Linked DNA regions of Homo sapiens: region 1 is linked to region 2. Evidence: fine-mapped expression QTL. A gene starts in region 2. The other region holds a variant in brackets. All regions are shown on one strand. Distances are from middle to middle. Region 1 has its middle 7.3 kb from the start of RHEX. Region 2 holds the start of CTSE (cathepsin E).

Region 1 (10,404 bases), 21 kb before region 2:
GAAGAGAAAGAGCAGGGGAAGATGCTGTCCCACAGCCACCACCACAGGTGTTCACCGGCCTCAGGCGCCAGCCCTGCTCAGGGTGAGAGGCGAAGAGGGAGGTGTGCTTAAGGCCAAATGAAAGAGGATCTGCCACCCTCTCCTCCCCCAACTCTTACCACATTCTAGCAAAGAGAGCTGCAGGAGCAGTCAGGAAATCCCCTAACAAGGCAAGCATTGGAACCAAGAGCCCAGGTGGCACGGATGAGTCACTTCACTTACTTGGACTCAGTTCCCCTATTTGTGAAATGAAGCAAGGATGAGAAGAGGAACAAGACGTGATCAAGAAAAAGGCAAATGTTTTCACAAGTGCCTGTCATTGCCCCCTTCTGTTGTCCCCTTCCACATGTCACCTGGTACATTGTACATTTCTTCTAACAATTGTGTTATTGGCCAGGAAATACAGAGAATTCTTTTAGAGAATAGGTTTTCTAAGTGTTAAAATTGTTTTTATTTTTAATTTTGTAAGGGGAGGACATCATCACCTTTTCAGTTTGGGACTTTTGAAGTGTTTGTTTCATTAGGTCACATTCAGATGGTTTTAGAATTCAAAAGGTACAAAAGGATAGTCCTGGAAAAGCTGCTCATCTGCTCTTGACCCCAGCCATCTAGTTCTCCTCCCTGGAGGAAACCAGCATGCCCAGTTTATTGTGTACGTTATGTGTACATGAGCAAACACACAGACACACAGAAACACACTCACCATACAGGCGTCTTCCTTACACATGACAGTGTACTACATACTTTGTTTTGCCTTTTGCTTTTTCACTTAATATATCTAGGAGTTAATTTATTATTAATACATACAGAACTTTCTCATTCCTTTCTTCCTCTTCAGAGTGTTCCGTTCTATGGTTGCTCACAGTTTATTTAACTGGTCATCTAGTAGTAAATTTAGATTGTTTCCACTTTTTACACTTGAAATGATGATGTAATTATTAAACTGCAACAAACATCATTTGCACAGGTGTAAATATGTGTGTAAAATTAGAGAAATGGCCATTAAAGTAGATCTGCCATCCCAGTTTTAGGAAGTCAGTATTCCTTTTTACAAATCCAAAATACAGTGTTACCCAATTTGACTACTCATATTATAATCCAGATTTCACTCTGGCTGTTTCCAAAAATCAAAGCACTCCTCAGAGAACAAAGATATGACATCACTGAGGATATTCAACAGAACTACCAATTTCTCTAAAGGCCGACCTCCAAGGAGAATCCAAACGCCTTCAGCAATAACAGCATCACTAGAGTGAGTATAGCATGTCCCTGGATGCTGATGATGGAGCGATAAACCCTCATGACACAGACATTTCCAAACAATTCAGGCAAAGTTTACTGAGTGCCAACTACATAGTCTGTTTAAAGCCCAGTCTGTCCTATTACACTGGTCTTTCAGTTTAAATAAATAAATAAATAAATATAAATAAATAAATAACCCAGTCTGTAAGGATGAATAGAAAAAGGCCTTGTCATCAAGAAACCAATGATCTAGGGAGCAGTTCTCAAAGTGTAGTCCAGGGACCCCCTGGGGGTTCCAGAGATCTTTTCAGAGGGTTCATGAGGTCAAAACCACTCTCTTAATAATACTAAGATACTAGTTGCCTTTTTCACTCTCAGTTTCTCTCAAGCATACAGTGGAGTTTCCCAAAGTCTATGTGACATGTGGTATGGCATGAGACTGAGTGCAAAGGCAGACCTGAGAACTCAGCTGTCTTTTATTGAGCTAGGTATGAATAATGAGATTTGCACATGCATAAAACAGTGCTTCTCTTTTCATTAAATTCTTCATGCTTTGGGAAATAGTTATATTTCATAAAAAGTGTTATGTTTAAGATGTAATGGCTTTGGTACTATTTTCTAAGGGGATTAGATAAATATTTTTAAATTTTCTTAGTTTTAATTTCTGATATGGTCAATATGAATAGATATAAACTACATAAACAATAGCGTTTTGGGTTCCTTAGTACTTTTTGAGAGTGTACAGGGGTCTGGAGGCCAAAGAGTTTGAGAATTGCTGATCTAAGGACCCATGGCATTTCTTCACCATAGGGCAAGAGAGGAGCATTTTGCCTTATCTGCCAAGAGTGTGCTATGCTACATCCAGGGGTGCAAGCCAAAAGATTCAGGAGGAACAGATTGGGTGTTCTCAAATAGCGATGTGTCAAGAGGACAGCAATTGCTTGGACACAAGAATTCCCCCCGGAGCCTGCTGGCTGGCAGTGCAGCGGCTGTGTAGAAAGGCTCTACCAGAGGGGCAAAGTCCAGGCATGAGGCAACAAGGAGGCTCTGAGGTTGGGGGAGCCTGCAGAAGAAGCGGAAGAGGAAGCTGGATAAGTCCGCCGCCCCTGGACTAAGCTGCTGACTACCTCCTGCTGTGATTCCAAGAGCCACTGCCTCAAAAAACTTCCTTGCAGGTGCTGGTGCCTGAAATTCCAGTGGAGGTGTTTCATTCCCTCAGCCAAAGGCAAATTCAATCCCAACAATCTCAAGTATCACTCAAGCTTACACAAGTGTGCAAATAACATTATGGAAGATAGATTCGAAGGTCACACTTTAATAAAACAAGAGAGTGTGTCTATAACAGGAGTGGGGTGGGATGGGTGGAGCGGACGGGAAATGGAGAACAAAGACTCAAAAATATGAAATAAATAGAACATAAGAGCAGTTCGTGGACCCATGATGTAAGAATGCCACTAGGGGGATTGATCAATCTGATTCTGGGTAGCTAAAATCAAAGAAAAAAAAATCCAATCCAGTCAAACTTCTCTGTAGCATATGGTATGTCCTTAGCAGCGTGAGACAGCTTACAAGGATAGAGAAGAATGAGACACGGGCCCTGGGTTCAGAGAGTGCTACCCCACGCTCACCCCCCACCCCAATTTAGCGAGGAAAATATCCGCGGCAACCATAGCAGCTGTAACAAAAGGTAGGTGTATAATCAAAGCTAAAAAGATGTACAAAGAAAGGGCTATTGGATCAGAAAGGAGGAGCAGGTTGTTTCTAACTTTAGTGACGAGGGAAGACTACATGGAGGAGGTGGCATTTGTTGTGGTCACGGATGTGTAGGAAGGATTCCTATGGCAGTGCTGAGGCTGTGGATATACCAGATGGGAGGGTGCTTGTAGTGAAGGCATGGCAGTTGGAATATCCAGCCATTTTTCCTTCGATGAACATCTGAAATCACTGCTAAGAGAGGGAGCATTGTACACCTGAGGGTGAAAGGAAGGCTGTCACCTAGGATGCAGAAGGAGGGAGGAACAGAACCTGGGAAGACAGAGGGCACGAAAGACAGTTCATGAACTTCAAGAGCCCAGTGGACTGAGATCATGTCTGATTTCACTTATCTCCCCGGCTTCTAGGCCAGTGCCTGGAACACAGCAGCCCTCAATAAATGCTCATTGAATGAATGAGAAGTTGGACACACTCCCTTTGCTCTTTTTCAGGCTGGCCACAGATGTGCTGCCGTAACCGAGTGGAGCCATATACTCTCACCATTTCTAGGACTTTAAATGTTTTTCTGGTTGCTTTTGCAGAATTTCATTTCTCCAAATAGAAACCCTGCGTCCTCTTGAGGTTTATTACAGAGGTATTTATTGGTTGGGGTTGCTTTAAAGATCACCATCAGGTTTTCATTTTGCACAGCAGCTTATTTGCAAACGTCAAACAGGTGTCTTAACATTTGGCATCCTAAGAAAATTAAACTGTCAGCCTCTTGGGCTCCTACAAAAGAGCACCAGTGAACATGTGAAGCCAGAACTGTCCACAGGTGACTTAACAGGAACTGATCCCATATTACCATCCTTTACTGGCTCTGCACATATCCTTCATTCAATTTAAAAACATAATAAAAATTTTTTTTAAGCAAGCACATTTTACTTACTTATTTGTTTATTTAGACAAGAGTCTCACTCTGTCGCCCAGGCTGGAGTGCAGTGGCGTGATCTCGGCTCACTGCAACTTCTGCCTCTCGGGTTCAAGTGATTCTCCTGCCTCAGCCTCTCGAGTAGCTGGGATTACAGGCACCCACCACAATGTCCAGCTAATTTTTGTATTTTTAGTAGAGACGGGGTTTTACCATGTTGGCCAGGCTGGTCTCAAATTCCTGACCTCAAGTGATCCACCGGCCTCGGCCTCTCAAAGTGCTGGGATTACAAGCATGAGCCACCGCACCTGGCCGCAAGCACATTTTTAACAAGTGCAAAATGGAAACCTTATGCACATCTTACGATTTCGTTGACGACTCAGAACTGGGGATATCTCGTGTGACCTCCGGTCAGCAGTTTAAAGGATGAGGCATACTTATCCCCATTTGTAGCTGAGGTAACTGAGTGATAAGTGAATTGCTCCAGGTCACAGTTAGCAAACAACAAAACCAGCATCCAAACAGAGGTCTCAAAATCCCTTAAACTACCTTTCATTTACTACACAGATTGTTTCTATATCATCTTTATTAGCTGTAATAACCACATAAATTTTGGAGTAGCTAAGGACAGTTGTTCAGGTTGTTTATTGCTCAAGGGCATGACATCTAAAGAAACTATCCAACCTGTAATCCCAGCACTTTGGGAGGCCAAGGTGGGCAGATAATCTGAGGTTGGGAATTCAAGACTAGCCTGACCAACATGGAGAAACCCTGTCTCTACTAAAAATATAAAAAATTAGCCAGGCGTGGTGGGGCATGCCTGTAATCCCAGCTACTCAGGAGGCTGAGGCAGGAGAATCGCTTGAACCCGGGA[G/T]GTGAAGGTTGCAGCGAGCCAAGATCGCACCATTGGACCCCAGCCTGGGCAACAAGAGTGAAACTCCGTCTCAAAAAAAAAAAAAAAGAAAGACAGAAACTATGCACATCACAGACATCATTATGTTGAATTTTTTTCACTTTTTTATTTAACTGCTAACTCTAAAGGTAGATGACATATTCTTATTAAAATAGTTTTCTGACAAATAACAATAAAATGTCTTCTCTAACAAAGATCCTTTTTTATGACAATTTTCTTTCAGATGGAAATAGATTTTCTAACAGGGTTGACATTTACTTCATAAGCTGAAGCAGAGAGTGTTTGACAAAGACCTTATTGGTTTAAGTAACGAGTGCCACAATAACTAGTGCTTCCAAACAAGGAGTTGTTTTCCAACTCTTGTTTTGATTTTTATCTAATTTTTTTTTAAATCCTGTATTAGTATTTGTGTATTGGCTAAATTTGAAGTTTTGCATTACAGTTCATATTGTCTGCCTGAATGGTAGCTCTGAATTCCTAATTTAGATCTACGGATTTTTATTATTACATAACTCACTTTTGTGGTAATTAATGATCATAGGCAATTATATATTCATAAAATAATTATTTTATATTCATAAATTAGAGACTATTATATCATGAATTGTGAATTGTATCATAGCTATTGTTTATGGGTTGTTAAAGAAAATTTCTTCAGGAGAAAAGCTAACTGCTGGTAAAGTTTCATGGCTTATTATATATATTTTTTAAAGTTTTAAGTTCTAGGATAAACTACTATTATGTTTTAATTATGTATATAGATATATACACATATATATATATATATATTTTTTTTTGAGACAGAGTGTCGCTCTGATGCCCAGGCTGGAGTACAGTGGCATGGTCTCAGCTCACTGCAGCCTCCGCCTCCCGGGTTCCAGCTATTCTCCTGCCTCAGCCTCCTGAGTAGCTGGGATTACAAGCATGTGCCACCACGCCTGGCTAATTTTTGTATTTTTAGTAGAGATGGGGTTTCACCATGTTGGTCAGGCTGGTCTTGAACTCCTGGCCTCGTGATCCACCCGCCTCAGCCTCCCAAAGTGCTGGGATTACAGGCATGAGTCATCATGCCCGGCCTTAATAATATTTCTTTAACATTTAATAAGCTAATATAATATTATTTCTCCCAGGATACTGATAAGAAAAAAAAATCAAACTAAAACTAGAAGATGAAAAGCTGTCTAGATAGAAAGTAAAGTAAAACTATTTGGATTATTGAATAAATTTAGGGAGAAATAGAGAGTTTAGGGCTGTTTGTTTCAGTGAATGTGTCACAGAAATGTGAGATGTGAATTTACCTTTTAGTTCCATTGTCAGAAATAATCGATGAATCTAAAAAAAAGTAGCTTTAAAAATGCAAAGAATTCAAACACATGGCCAAGTAGTTTGAATAGGAAACAAAGATGTACTCTTGCTGAAAATTATTCACCTCAAGTAAAAAATTTTTTATCTTTACAAAAGATAATACAGGTTGGAAGTTTTTGGAAATATAATGGACACAAATTTTTTCCAAATGGTGAGGAGAAATAATAATGACTAGATTCTGATTATTTTATTATACTTCCAAGGACTCTGTATTTTGCCAGCTCTTTGAGAACAAAAAATCAGCTGGAAAATGGGAAAGAATGCAAAGATTGTACAGCACTTGGCACATTTTTTTGTAAACATGAAGAATCTGAAATAAACATCAATAGGAATGCTAAGTATTCAAATTTCAAATCTGATTAGAAATATATAATTATTAATGCTGCAAAACAGATTCTATATGATGAGGAAAATATTACATTGAACAAAAAAACTCAATTCTGTTTTGGCAAGACAATATCTAGCATTCAGAGGATCATCTACAAAAATGTATAAGCAGTATAATAACAGGAATTTTCTTCATTTACGAAAAGCATAGAAGCTTAATAGAATTTACAGCAGTATACAAATATATATTGTATGTTTCAAATATGCAATAATTTGTATATATACAATATATATTTGTTTATATAAACATATACTTGTATATTATTGTACAAATATTATATACTATATATAAACACCAAATATATACCAAATATTATATACTATATATAAATATTATATACTATATATAAACACCAAATAGCATTTACACATTATGTAGCAGATGAAAAGCAAAACCAAATGATTAAAATATAGCAGATTTGTTGACTGAAGTTATTTTGAATCTTGTAAGAAGTGCTAAATATCACACAGTTAAATAACTTGAGGTACATTTCCTGATGTAAGCCACGTGGAACAGTTGACAATTATTTTTAGATTTGTACATTTTCAAAATGCAAATATATCTATATGTAAACATTAATTTTTTTCCCTACAGTAAATGATACAGCTGGAGAAGGATTATTTAGGTTTTTGGTTGACCACAACCATCACCAACAGAAGCACTGAATATAGGCTATAATGATTTGAGGGAGCAGATACAACAAAGATGAAAAAAATTTATGACAAACTTAATGGATTTCAGCATAGGTCCCCAAAAGATTCTAAGGCTGCCTTGCTCTGTCGCCCAGGCTGGAGTGCAGTGGCCTGATCTCGGCTCACCGCAATCTCCGCCTCCCAGGTTCAAGTGATTCTCTTGCCTCAGCCTCCCAAGTAGCTGGGATTACAGGCACACGCCACTGCACCTGGCTAATCTTCTGTATTTTTAGTAGAGAATGGCGGTTCACCATGTTGGGCAGGCTGGTCTCGAACCCCTGACCTCAGGTAATCCACCCACGTCAGCCTCCCAAAGTGCCAGGATTACAGGCGTGAGCCACCACGGCCGGCCAGGTTGCCTATTCTTTAAAGCCAATAGTGAATAAAATATTAAAAATTCCTGTCTGGGTGAGGTGGCTCACACCTGTAATCCTCTACAATCTGAAGGTCAATAGCAAAATTAGTTTTTTTCTATATTGGAAGCAATAATATCTCTTTAAAAGAGAGGCTTATAATAAAGAATATCTCAAGGTCTTTTCAGTATTCTAGATGACATGCATAAATTGAAAAATTATGACAAATATGAGCTTCTGCAACCATTAAAAATATACAATTGAAATTGAGAAACATAGGAGGAAGAGTGATACTGATGAAGCATTAGTGTAAGAGGAACTAAAATCCTGAAGTCGCTTTCTAAAATCTAGTTGATATGGCTGGGCTCACACCTGTAATCCCAACACTTTGGGAGGCAGGAGGATCGCTTGAGCTCAGAAGTTCAAAACCAGCCTAGGTAACATGGTGAAACACTGTATCTATACAAAATTTAGCCAGCATGTTGGTACATGCCTGTAGTCCCAGCTACTTGGGAGGCGGAGAGCAGAGGATTGCTTGAGCCCAGGAGGTTGAGGCTGCAGTGAGCCATGATCGTGCCATTGCACTCAAGCCTGGGTGACAGAGCAAGACCCTGTCTCAAAAAATAAATAAATAAGTAGATTAATAAAATCTAATTGCCTCCCATGAAATGCCTCAATTTATTTTCAGTAATAATATACCAGACACATTTTCCTAAAACCATCCTAGCTCTTAGGATACATTAACTTTGGTAGTATCAGCCAGCAGTGGAAAATGTAGATACTTTTAAAACAATTATAAAAAGCTACTTATCAAGAATGTCACAAGAAAGACTATCAATTCTAGTGACCATTTTTATAGAAAATAAGATACTGAGCCGGGTGCAGTGGCTCATGCCTATAATCCCAGCACTTTGGGAAGCCGAGGGGGCGCAGATCACCTGAGGTCAGGAGTTCGAGACCAGCCTGGCCAACATGGTAAAACACCATCTCTACTAAAAATACAAAAATTAGTGGGGCATGGTGGTGCACACCTGTAATCCCAGCTACTCAGGAGGCTGAAGCAGGAGAATCACTTGAACCCGAGAGACGGAGGTTGCAGTGAGCCGAGATTGCGCCACTGCACTCCAGCCTGGGTGACAGAGTGAGACTCCATTTCAAAAAAAAAAAAAAAAAAAACTGGAACAAGCAGGCATTAAAATTGACATAGAAAATGTTGTCCCCATGAAAATTATTTTATGACTAAAACTATCTTATGATGAATTGTTACATCCCAGAGACTTTCAAATCCTGAGTATTGTGACTAAAAACACTAATTTTCTATTATCTTGGATTTAATAATTTTATATATATAATTCATATAGAACCAACTTGTGTTTGTTTCATTGGGGTACCCCTTCCTTATCCCACACAGGTGCTGTAGGGGTCAATAGTAACCCAGCACCTTTTAGTGATTAGTTAAAAAGTGACTGCGGCAAGAGGACAGCTAGCAAAGCATCTGTTCTCTTCCACGCATGTTACCTCGTGCATGTGATTACTGTGTGTGAACCTGCCTGACAGTGGTTGCCTACTCAGGCATGAAAGGCCTGCCATGATCTGAGTCCTGCCCACCTCCCAGCCGTGCTCTCTTACACTTTATGCTGCAGCCAGCCTGGGCTTCTGGCAGTTTCTCGGTGCCCCAGGCTTGTTCTTGCCTGTGCACACTCCGCCCCAACCCTGCCTCCCCCTCCCTCACGGGAGGGCTGCAAGAGGCTCCCACACAGTGCCTGCAATCATAGCATTCCTCACACAGAGCTGTTACCTGTTACCTCACCTGCAGTCTGCCTTCCTCCCTAGACTGTCACTCCTTCAGGGAAGATTCGTGTCTCCTGTCTTTGCACACGGGTGCACTGCCCAGTCTCTGCACCTAACTGATGCTCTGTAATGCTGTTATTGGGAGAAAGACACATGAAGATGGCCAAATTTATCTATGTCTTTAAAGAAGTTCCAACTCTAAAAACCAAATAAATTAAGTTAAAACAATTTGAAACTATTTTTAAAAAATAATTAAAATGCTCAGCCCAGTGAAGTGTTCTGCAGACAGACACTTTCTAGCAAGAAGGCAAATTGTTACCATCTCTCTGAAGGGCAATTTGGTGGTGGGTATCAAAAAGCAATGAAGGCCAGGCACAGTGGCTCACGCCTGTAATCCCAGCACTTTGGGAGGCTGAGGCAGGCAGATCATGAGGTCAGGAGTTTGAGACCAGCCTGGCCAACATGGTGAAACCCCGTCTCTACTACAAATTCAAAAATTAGCTGAGTGTGGTGGTGCACACCTGTAATCCCAGCTACTCAGGAGGCTGAGGCAGGAGAATTGCTTGAACCCGGGAGGTGAAGGTTGAAGTGAGCCCAGATCGCGCCATTATACTCCAGCCTGGGCAACAACAGAGCAAAACTCCGTTTCAAAAAAAAAAAAAAAAAGCAATGAAAATGTCCATACTCCTTAGACTCAGCAACTCCACTTAGAGGAATTAATCCCAATGACATAATTAAGAAAATGTGTGCAAAGATCCAGGGGGTAAAGTAGGGAACTACTGTGTCATTTACACCAGCAGCAATTGAGAAACAACCTTGATACCCAGAAACAATCTTGATACCTCAAGATACCTTGAGGTTGCAGTGAGCCCAGATCGTGCCACTGCACTCCAGCCTGGGCAACAGGGCGAGACTCCGTCTCAAAAAAAAAAAATAGAGATGAGGGCTTCCTATGTTGCCCAGGCTGGCCTCAAACTCCTTGGCTCAAACAATCCTCC
Region 2 (10,404 bases):
GAAATTATTCTCTGTCCCTCTCTTCTTTTCCTCTCTCCCATTCCTCGGTGCCTTTCTCTTCCAGAAAGAAATTTTAGAATGTCAGACCTCAAAGATGACCCAATACAATGCCACAGTTAAGAACACTGACTTCAAAGGCAAACCTGGGTTTGAATCCTGGTTTCAGCACCTTATGCAAGTTACTTAAACCCTCTGTGCCTCAATTACCTCATCTGTAAAATGGGCTTAAAAACAATACCTAGCTGATAGGATTGGTGAGAGATTTGAATGAACTAATGCTTGTAAGTCCCTTAGCTCAGAGCCTAGCACAGAGCTAATGCTTCCAAAGTATTCCTTGATATTGTCACCCAATCAAGCCTCTTCATTTTATAGGCAACAAAACTAGATTCAGAGAGAAGGGATTTATCTGCGATCATATGGCCAGTTAGTGGCAGAGCCAGGACTGGAGCCAGGCATCTCATCTCATCTCATCTCACCTGGTACAGACATCTTTCTACTGTACCACACACAGCATCGTGGATTTTCCCTCATTTCCTAACTTTAAGCAAAAGAGGTTGGGCCATTTCCCAGTTGGCCAGGTTTGTGCTGAACCAGCAATGTGTTGCAAGAGTCAGGCATCCTGGAGTGCATCCTGCGGTGCCGGCTCCCCTGTGAGCAGGAGCCAGCTCATGTCTGACAGTAACAGACTCTGTTCTAGGAGCTATCGAGCCCTGATAAAACTTATCCACAGAGCACTGAGCAACTGTCCTCTTATATTGTTATTATTTTATTTTGAGACATCTGTTGCCCTCTCAGGCTGGAGGGTAGTGGAGCAATCTGGGCTCACTGCAACCTCTGCCTCCCAGGTTCAAGAGATTCTCCCGCTTCAGCCTCCTGAGTAGCTGGGATTACAGGCACGTGCCACCATGCCTGGCTAATATTTGTATTTTTAGTAGAGACAAGGTTTCACTATGTTGGCCAGGCTGGTCTTGAACTCCTGACCTCAAGTGATCAGCCCACCTCAGCCTCCCAAATGTCCTCTTATTATTAATTTACTTTCTGGAAGCTGAAGCTCCAGAAAGAAGTTCACTAGATAGTGACACCACCACCAGCTTTCAAATGTTCTGGGAACAAAGTCTCTACATCCAGCCAGCCTCCAATCCACGTTCTTGAGCGTCTCTTTCTCTCCCCCCACCCCTCTCTCTCTCTCTCCAAAGACCCTCTCCTAATGCAGAGAGACCGGATCATTGACTATACTATGTGTCACTTTCCCCCACATCATACTATTTCACCTCAAATGCTCTTCTCTCTCCCTCTGCTCAAAGGACACACACAGACAACCACACATATGCCTAAGGTCTTTTGTTCTTTGGAAAGTGTTCAAATTGTCCACAGCAATATTTGGTTCTTGCTGGAAAAGGCCAGTAATCTACAGCCAGGGTAGGTTCAGTTCCTGGTGTCTCTGGAGAGGACAGATCCCATTAGCTCTGACAAACATCCCCAGTGTTCCTGCTCTTAACCTTTGTCAAATTTTCCAAAATCCAGCTAGACCCAGGGGCTCCTTGCAGGCAGTCGAGGCTGTGTCTGCTCCACTCAGTAGTCAGGTGGCCCACAGCTGCAAGGACCAGTCAGCTTTTTCTCAAGCCTGGGCCAGGCAAACTCTCTACATTTAGTAAACAGGGGCAAGAGGGATGCAGGGAGAGGTCTAAAAGATGGAAAAGGAGGGAGGGGTTATGGTTAGCCCCCTTTCAACAGTTCAGTGATAATGATGCTATAATTCTGTAGCAGAAAGTTTGCCCGCTTAGAAGTCAGGAGGGCTGAGTCCTAATCCTAGATCAGCCACTAAATGAACCATGTGCTCTTGGGCTGATCACTTTGCCTCTCTGCCTCAGTTTTCTCATTCTGCTATACAAGTGGGTTTGTCTTGAGAGTCTGTAAGAACCCTTCCAGCACTTCTGAAACACTGAAGTTTTTAGTGACAATCTTTAGTTCACATGACATGTTACAGTTTTTCAAGAACTTCCACATGCAAGCATCATTTGGAGCTACTGTGGGTTTGGTTCCAGACTACTGCAATAAAGTGAAAATTGCAATAAAGTCAATCACACAAGTTTTTTGGTTTCAAAATGCATGCAAAAGTTGTGTTTACCCTGTACTGTAGTCTATTAAGTGTGCAATAGCATTATGTCTAAAAACATCTTAATTAAAACATGCTTTATTGCTAAAAATGTTAACAATCATCTGAGCCTTCAGGGAGTCATAACCTTTTTGCTGGCGGAGGTCTTGCCTGGACATTAATGGCTGCTGACTGATCAAGGTGGTAGTTGCTCCAGGTTTGGGGTGGCCATGACAATTTCTTTCTTTCTTTCTTTCTTTTTTTTGAGATGGAGTTTCACTCTTGTTGCCCAGGCTGGAGTGCAGTGGCAGGATCTCGGCTCTCTGCAACCTCCGCCTCCCAGGTTCAATTAATACTCCTGCCTCAGCCTCCTGAGTAGCTGGCATTACAGGCATGCACCACCACACCCAGGTGTTTTGTATTTTTAGTAGAGATGGGGTTTCTCCATGTTGGTCAGGCTGGTCTCAAACTCCCGACCTCAGGTGATCTGCCCGCCTCGGCCTCCCAAAATACTGGGATTACAGGCACGAGCCACAGCGCCCAGTTCTTAAACTAAGAAAACAATGAAGTTTGCCACATAGATTGACTCTTCCTTTCTTGAAGATTTCCCTGTAGCATATGATGCTGTTTGATAGCATTTTACTCACAGTAGAACTTCTTTCAAAACTGGAGTAATCTTCTCAAACCCTACTACTGCTATCAACCAAGTTAATGCAATATTCATAATCTTTTGTTGGCATTTCAACAGTGTTCACAGCATCTTCACCAGGAATACATTCCATCTCAAGAAACCACATCCTTTACTCATCCATAAGAAGCAACTTCTCATCCATCCAAGTTTGATCATGAGGTTGCAGCAATTCAGTCACACCTTCAGGCTCCACTTCTAGTTCTCTTGCTATTCCCACCACATCTACAGTTACTTTCTCCACTGAAGTCTTGAACCCCTTAAAGTTATCCATGAGGATTGGAATCAACTTCTTCCAAACTCCTTTTAATTTTATAGTTTGATCTCCCATGAATCATGAATAATCATAATGGCATCTAGAATGGTAAATCCTTTCCGGAAGATTTCCATTTACTTTGCCCAGATCCATCAGAATCACTATCTATGGTGGCTATAGCTTTACAAAATGCATTTCTTAAATAATGAGACTTGAAAGTCAAAATTATTCCTTGATCCAGGGGCTGCAGAATGAATATTGGGTTAGCAGGCATAAAAACATTTATCTCCTTATAAATCTCCATCAGAGCTCTTTGGCAATGAGTTGCATTGTCAATGAGCAGTAAAATTTTGAAAAGAATTTTTTTTTTTCTGAGCAGTAGGTCTCAACAGCAAGCTTAAAATATCCAGTAAACCATGCTGTAAACCAATGTACTGTCATCCAGGGCTATGTTGTTCCACTGATACAGCACAAACAAACTCTATTTAGCATAGTTTTTTAGGGCCCTAGGATTTTCAGAATGGGCAAATGAGCATTGGCTTCAACTTAAAGTCACCAGCTGCATTATCCCCTAACAAAAGATTCAGCCTGTTCTTTGAAGATTTGAATCCAGGCATTGACTTCTCTCTAGTATGAAAGTCCTAGATGGTATCTTCTTCCAGTATGAGGCTATTTTGTCTATACTAAAAATCTGTTGTTCATTGTAGCCACCTTCATCAATGATCTTAGCTAGATCTTCTGGATAACTTGCTGCAGCTTCTGCTTTGGGACTTTCTGCTTCACCTTGCAGAAATCTCCATAGGCTTCACGTTTTCTTCTGCAGCTTCCTCACCTCTCTCTGCCTTCATAGAACTGAAGAGTGTTAGGGCCTTGCTCTGGATTTGGCTTTGACTTAAGGGAGTGTTGTCACTGCTTTGATCTTCTATCCAGACCAATAACACTTTCTCCATATCAGCAAGAAAACTATTTTGCTTTCTTATCATTTGTGTGTTCCCTGTAATATCACCTTCAATTTCCCTTAAGAACTTTTTCTTTGCATTCATGACTTGGGTAACTGTTTGGTGTAAGAGGTCTAGCTTTCAGCCCTTCTTGGCTTTCAACATGGCTTCCTCACTAGGCTTAATAATTTCTAGCTTTGAATTTAAAATGAGGAACATGCAAATCTTCCTCTCACTTAAACACTTAGAGGTCACTGTAGAATTATTAATTGGCCTAATTTCAATATTGTTGTGTCTCAGGCAACAGGAAGGCCCGAGGGGGAGAGAAAGAGAGGGAGAGAGAGAGATGGGGGAATGACCAGTTAGTAGAGCAATGGAGCAATCAGAACACACAATTACACTTATTAAATTCTCTGTCTTACACGGGTGCAGTTTGTGGTACCCCAAAACAATTACAACAGTAACATCAAAGATCACTGAGTACAGATCACCAAAACAGATAAAATAATCATGAAAAACTTTGAAATATTGCAAGAATTACCAAAATGTGGCACAGAGACACAAAATGAACACACAGTATTGGAAAAATGGTGCTGATAGACTTGCTTGACACAGGTTTGCCACAAACCTTCAATTAAAAAAAAAAAGCAGTATCTGCAAAGTGCAGTAAAGCAGAGTGCAGTACAACAAGTATATCTGTACCTTATTTTGTTTGTTTAATCCTCCTTAAAAACCCATTGATGTAGGTAAGGTATTTGGCAGATGACAAAACTAAGGTATGTGGTGAATAAGCAGTTACGGGCAAAACATGGCAGAGTTTACTGCCAAAATGAATGATCTCCACTTCTAGCCACTTCTGACTCAAGCTGCCCTTCTAGGTTTAGACCACTCTCCCCAGTGAAAGATCAACAAGACGGGCTCCTGGGAAATGCCAAAGAGGCTTTGTTGCCTTGGGTTCAGGGGTCAAAGGTCTAGGCTGTTCCTTAAGTCTTTTTGATGTCTTTTTTTAACATTTTTGGACCCAAGGGTGGGTTTGGCTTAGCTCCATACTCCACGTTTGCTTGCCATTTGAACTTCAGAGATGAAAGGCAGATCCCATAGCACTTAAGAGATTTTCCAGAACACTAGCTGGTCAGGGCAGAGCTAAACCTAAACGCAGGCCATCTACTTCCTACTGCTGAGCTAGTGCCCTCTGGAAGCATTGGCATATGGTGGTGGCCTCTGCTGCCCTGGCTAACTTGAGTCAGGGTCAGGGTCTTCCTACCTGTAACCCCTTCATCCCCACCCCAGGCACTGAAGCCCCACCATCTGTTTATGAGGCGGGTGGCCACAGAGATAGGCTGATGGTGAGGGGGTTTCACACACTGCGGTAACTAAGGCCTGAGCCCCACCCACTCTCCACCCCTGCGCTTAGTCCCACTTGACAGATAGAAGATCCTATTGTCCCTGAGCACTGTTAAGGGCTGAACTTTGTCCTCCAAAATCCATGTTGATGTCCTAACACCTAGTACCTCAGAACGTGACTGTATTTGGAGATAGGGTCTTTAAAGAGGTATTAAGGGTAAACGCAGTCATTAGGGTGGGCCCTACTCCAATATGACTAGCGTCCTTATAAGAAGAGGAAATGTGGATGTGGACACAGCCACACGCTGAGGGAAGACCCATGTGAAGACACAGAGAGAAGGCAGCCATCTGCAAGCCAAGGAGAGAGGCCTCCGAAGCAACCAAGTCTGCCAACACCTTGATCTTGGACTTCCAGCCTCCAGAATAGTGAGAAAATAAATTTCTGTTGTTTAAGCCCCCTGTACTTTGTCATGGCCGCTTTAGTAGACTCATGCGGGCACTTGCTGTAGACGCTGACCCCCTTGACCCTCCCTCGCTGCCCCTGCATTCTCCTCCACACACCCCTGAGCCCCAGCCCCAGATTCATCAAGTCCTTAGAGTCAGGAGAGTGGGCTCCATAAATCTGCAGCTACATTTTCCCATTTCAGGGCCTTTGAGGAGTGCTGGTTTGTGCTTCAAAGTGGGCCAGGGAAGGATAAACTGCCTTTGGAGCATTTGAGAGATTGAGGAGAGAACAGGAATCACCCAGAAAACAGACTGACGAATATTTTGAGTTAGAATCCTGCCACCCATGACAAGTCAGCTCCCACCCCTCCAGAGTCTCCAGCTAGAGCACTTGCAGTAAGAGTTCAGTGGGCCTTTCCAGGCAGCCAGGCATGTGCTGCCCTCCGGATTCATTAACAGGGTTTCTTGGGGTCAGAGGAGGTGCCAAAGCCCTGAGAGAAGCCAAGCCCCAGAGGACTCCCAAGTTCTCCCCGCAGACTCATATTCCTCTTGTAGGTGGGAAAGGGACGGAGAGGTGCAGGGGGAACGCCCTGTTCCACATGCCGTATTTACTCTGGGCATGGCTAATGACTCCAGGGCCTTATCATTCGGCCCTCAGACTGGGCTGGGCAGGTCTGAGAGTTAGGGAAAGTCCGTTCCCACTGCCCTCGGGGAGAGAAGAAAGGAGGGGGCAAGGGAGAAGCTGCTGGTCGGACTCACAATGAAAACGCTCCTTCTTTTGCTGCTGGTGCTCCTGGAGCTGGGAGAGGCCCAAGGATCCCTTCACAGGTGAGAAGACGTCCCCGCACTGTGTTCAGCTGGGTAGTCCCATGCCCTGCAACTCAGGGCTGCTCTGGGGTAGGAAAGCTGATGGGGAGGTGAAGAGGAGGAGAAGCTGAGGGCTTGCGTCAATGCATGGAAGAGACTCATCCAGTGACCGCCTGTGTATGGCCTTAATCTCCAGTCCTCAACAAGTCATCCTCCTGCCTCCACCTCCACGGAGGTGCCTTCCCAAGTCCCAGGGGTCTTCTTGTGTTGCAAAAGAGCAGGAACCTGCAGTTGTGGTTTGTAGCTCAAAGCGCCCCAGGACTTCCCCAGGGGACTGACCATCACTGTCCCCAAGAGTTTTTCTGTCCCTTTAAATCAGCCCTTCGTGATGTTCATGTAAAACTGTAGACCGCCCCACATCTCCCATTTTCCTAGATCTCAAAGACCTCAGCTCCAGGAGGGGAGCCATTTCCACTCTAAGATTCTAAGACTCTATAGGGCAGAGATGAGGCCGGGCAGGCTGAGTGGCAGAGAGGACGCTGATCCCACCTGTATCCTGCGTGCTGTCTTGCAGATCCCCCCCTCCCACCCCATCTTCTCTAGTTGGCCCCTGAGAAAATGGGACGAGAATGGGGGGAAGAGGGAGGCAGAAGTACATCTCCTGCTTACATGGGGGTTTGTCTCCAGGGTGCCCCTCAGGAGGCATCCGTCCCTCAAGAAGAAGCTGCGGGCACGGAGCCAGCTCTCTGAGTTCTGGAAATCCCATAATTTGGACATGATCCAGTTCACCGAGTCCTGCTCAATGGACCAGAGTGCCAAGGAACCCCTCATCAACTACTTGGATGTGAGGCCTCCTGGGGTCAGGGCTGGGGAGAGGTGGGAGCGGGAGGAAGGCCCAGCATTAGGGCATGGCCAGTGCCACATCAGTAGCACCGAAGGCCATTGTGGATTTCTTCACTTGGATGATGATCCATGGGGACTGATTCCCTGGGTCCCCATGGAGTTGGCTAAGCAGGCCCCCATGTACCCAAATGTCAGAGTTCTCTGCAGAAGGAAAGGGCTGGGAGTGAAAGCATCATCCCACACTGAAGGCCCCTGCTTCTGCTCTCAGCTGGGCAGCTTACTGGCTGTGTACCCTTAGGCAAGTTACTTAACCTCTCCCAGCCCCAGTTCCCTGGTCTGTAAAACAGATGGTTCTTCCTCCACTGCCTCTCCTACAATGTATTTATAAGAATCAGGTTAGTGCAAGTAAAATCAAATGAAGTAGCCAGAGGCTTGGTTTGATTTCCTCCTTCATGGCCATTTCTCTGCTCCTTTTACCTTTTATTTTCCAGCGTTGCCACTTCCTAGGCTCTGTAAACTCCAGTCTGTATTACCCCAGGCTCTGGCCCCTGGGAGCTTTCCCCTGGCTTCCTGGTGAGCACCCTTGTCCCTCCCCACCACCCACACCCTCTTTCCTTCTCACTCTTCCTTGCAGATGGAATACTTCGGCACTATCTCCATTGGCTCCCCACCACAGAACTTCACTGTCATCTTCGACACTGGCTCCTCCAACCTCTGGGTCCCCTCTGTGTACTGCACTAGCCCAGCCTGCAGTAAGTGGGGCCAGGAGCACCAGCAGAGAATGTCTGGGGGCTAGTCCTGGGAGGCCAAGCCTGGTACTCTGGGGAAGGGGGGCTTAGGTTCCAGAAACTGGCCATCCCTGCCACACCAGCTTCCACTCTCCATCTTTGAGTCAGCCGTGGAACTGCTTATAGCAGAGATAGAGCAAAGCCAAGGAAGAACTAAAATGTGGCTGCTGTCCAAGAGAGTAACTTTCATACTGATCAGAATTAATAGAAAGAAAGCCATTGAAAAGAGAAATCTTTGACATAATGACTCACTTCCTTTGGAACACCCAAAGGAATGTAGGGGAAGTTTAATTTAATTGGTTATTTCTGAGCAGGGAGGTGAGTCGGGTTCTAGTGTAGATAGTCTGCTTGTTTCAAGGAGGCTTGGTAGCCTTATCTCCTGGTGCACACAGGTGGGGCTGGTGGGGCACAATGGCATGGGTGGGTCCATTTGTCCAGAGGTAACTCAGAAGTTTCAGTGAGGATTGGAAAAGAAGAGCTACAGAAAGATGTCTTGTTCGATACAGGACAAGTCCCAGAGACAGAATGTCTCTGGAAACCCCAAGGCTAGAGATGTCCATCGGTTGGGAGAAAAGTTGGGAGTAATTTCCTGGGGCAATTGTTTATCCCTGAGTTTCTTTTGAAGCCAACCTCTGACCCACAATGGGTGGCAGGGACTGTGGCTGGCGCCTGATAAATGACACTTATCTTGGTGTGCCTCATGAGGTCATTGTGGACAATCAGGTTTGCTCAGGGATAGCTATTTGGTCCCCAGTTAGGCCACATCTGTAGCTAGAGGGAAATGTAGTTGTTCATTAGGGAGGGGCATCACCAGGCTTCTAGGGGCCCCCACTCAGTGTTGAGAGCTGAGGGAAGAGACCCTGCCGCTGTGGGGCTGGGTGGCATTAGGGCAGGGATGCAGCCAGTGAGCCGATGGCATAAGCAAGAGCAGTGCACTTCTTTCCAGAGACGCACAGCAGGTTCCAGCCTTCCCAGTCCAGCACATACAGCCAGCCAGGTCAATCTTTCTCCATTCAGTATGGAACCGGGAGCTTGTCCGGGATCATTGGAGCCGACCAAGTCTCTGTGAGTGCAAGTCCTTCATTTTTTCTCTCTTGGACAGAAACTTGGGAGACTTATTCAGAGGTCTTACATTTCAAATCTGCCTCAGGAATGGGTGGAAACAGGGGTTAGCACTAACTTCTAGGAGAAAGGGCAAGCAACACTCCCCACCTGAGATGGTGGCAGTGGGTCAGTCTCCACAGCACGCTGGGCCCTGGGGGAGAGCAGCACAGGGGGACTCTGGCAGGAAGCAGTGCCCAGTGCACAAAGCCTGGTGGCAGGGTGCACAGCTGGATCTCCAGTCTCTAGGGCATTGAGGAGATAAAACCACGTCTCCGTCTTGAAGGATAAAGAAGTCCACACCAGGGGGAGAGATTTGGACTCAGTAACATAAGGGGGCAAGGTCTGAAATGGGAGTCCAATCACAGAGGCAAGGCAGAAGCCCAGTTGTCCAAAGGCCAAGGTCCAAACTGAACTCAGTGCTGAGCTCATGAGCTGTTCCTCAAACTCCCTCTGACCTCTGACCCTCTGACTCCCTCTGAAGTCCTATGGGTCCTAGAACTATGGGAATCAGACAAATGTGGGGACAGAGAGCCAGGTACTTTTTCAGGCTTATAGACAGCAATATATGCCTGGGCCTTGGGAGAAAGAGAGGTTGACCTACTCCTGGTGAACGTTGGTCCCTGGGGTATTCCCGAGGCCAGCAGGGCACAGCCTTCATCAACATCCCTTAGAGTGGGTGGAGTAGGACATATTATCAACTGAAAGAATGCCAGAAGCAGAAAAACACCATCTATGTAAAAATATCATACAGATAAAACAATGTACTGTATTTTCTATTGGAACTATGTATGCGTGTGTATACACACATTACATATATAATATATAATATATAATATCCATATATGAATATATGTAATATACAGTATATTTGTATATATAATATATATCCATCTGTATATATTATATAGATACAATATGTAACATATTAAAGTATATAATAATTGCATAATTATATCATATAATACATGTTATATATTATATAATTAATATAATATGTAATACATTACATTAATATATGTTATATAATATATAATATATTATAGAATATAATTGATATAATGTATTATATTAATAATATAGTATGTGTTATATAATAT

The links.
Region 1: its variant is fine-mapped to the expression of CTSE in whole blood (TOPMed, PIP above 0.99).

What each region holds. Positions count from the first base shown.
Region 1 is chr1:206,040,700-206,051,103 of GRCh38, reverse strand. No RefSeq gene overlaps it. Among named protein-coding and RNA genes, the nearest start is that of RHEX, 7.3 kb to the left of the region's middle. RefSeq lists enhancers at 1-398, 1,553-1,622, 3,352-3,521, 8,775-9,276. The variant G/T (reference allele first, on the strand shown) is at 4,779.
Region 2 is chr1:206,019,913-206,030,316 of GRCh38, reverse strand. It overlaps CTSE (cathepsin E), which reads left to right and starts at 6,422. Exons shown (of 9, transcript NM_001910.4): 1 at 6,422-6,593; 2 at 7,260-7,416; 3 at 8,050-8,167; 4 at 9,150-9,268. The coding sequence starts at 6,526.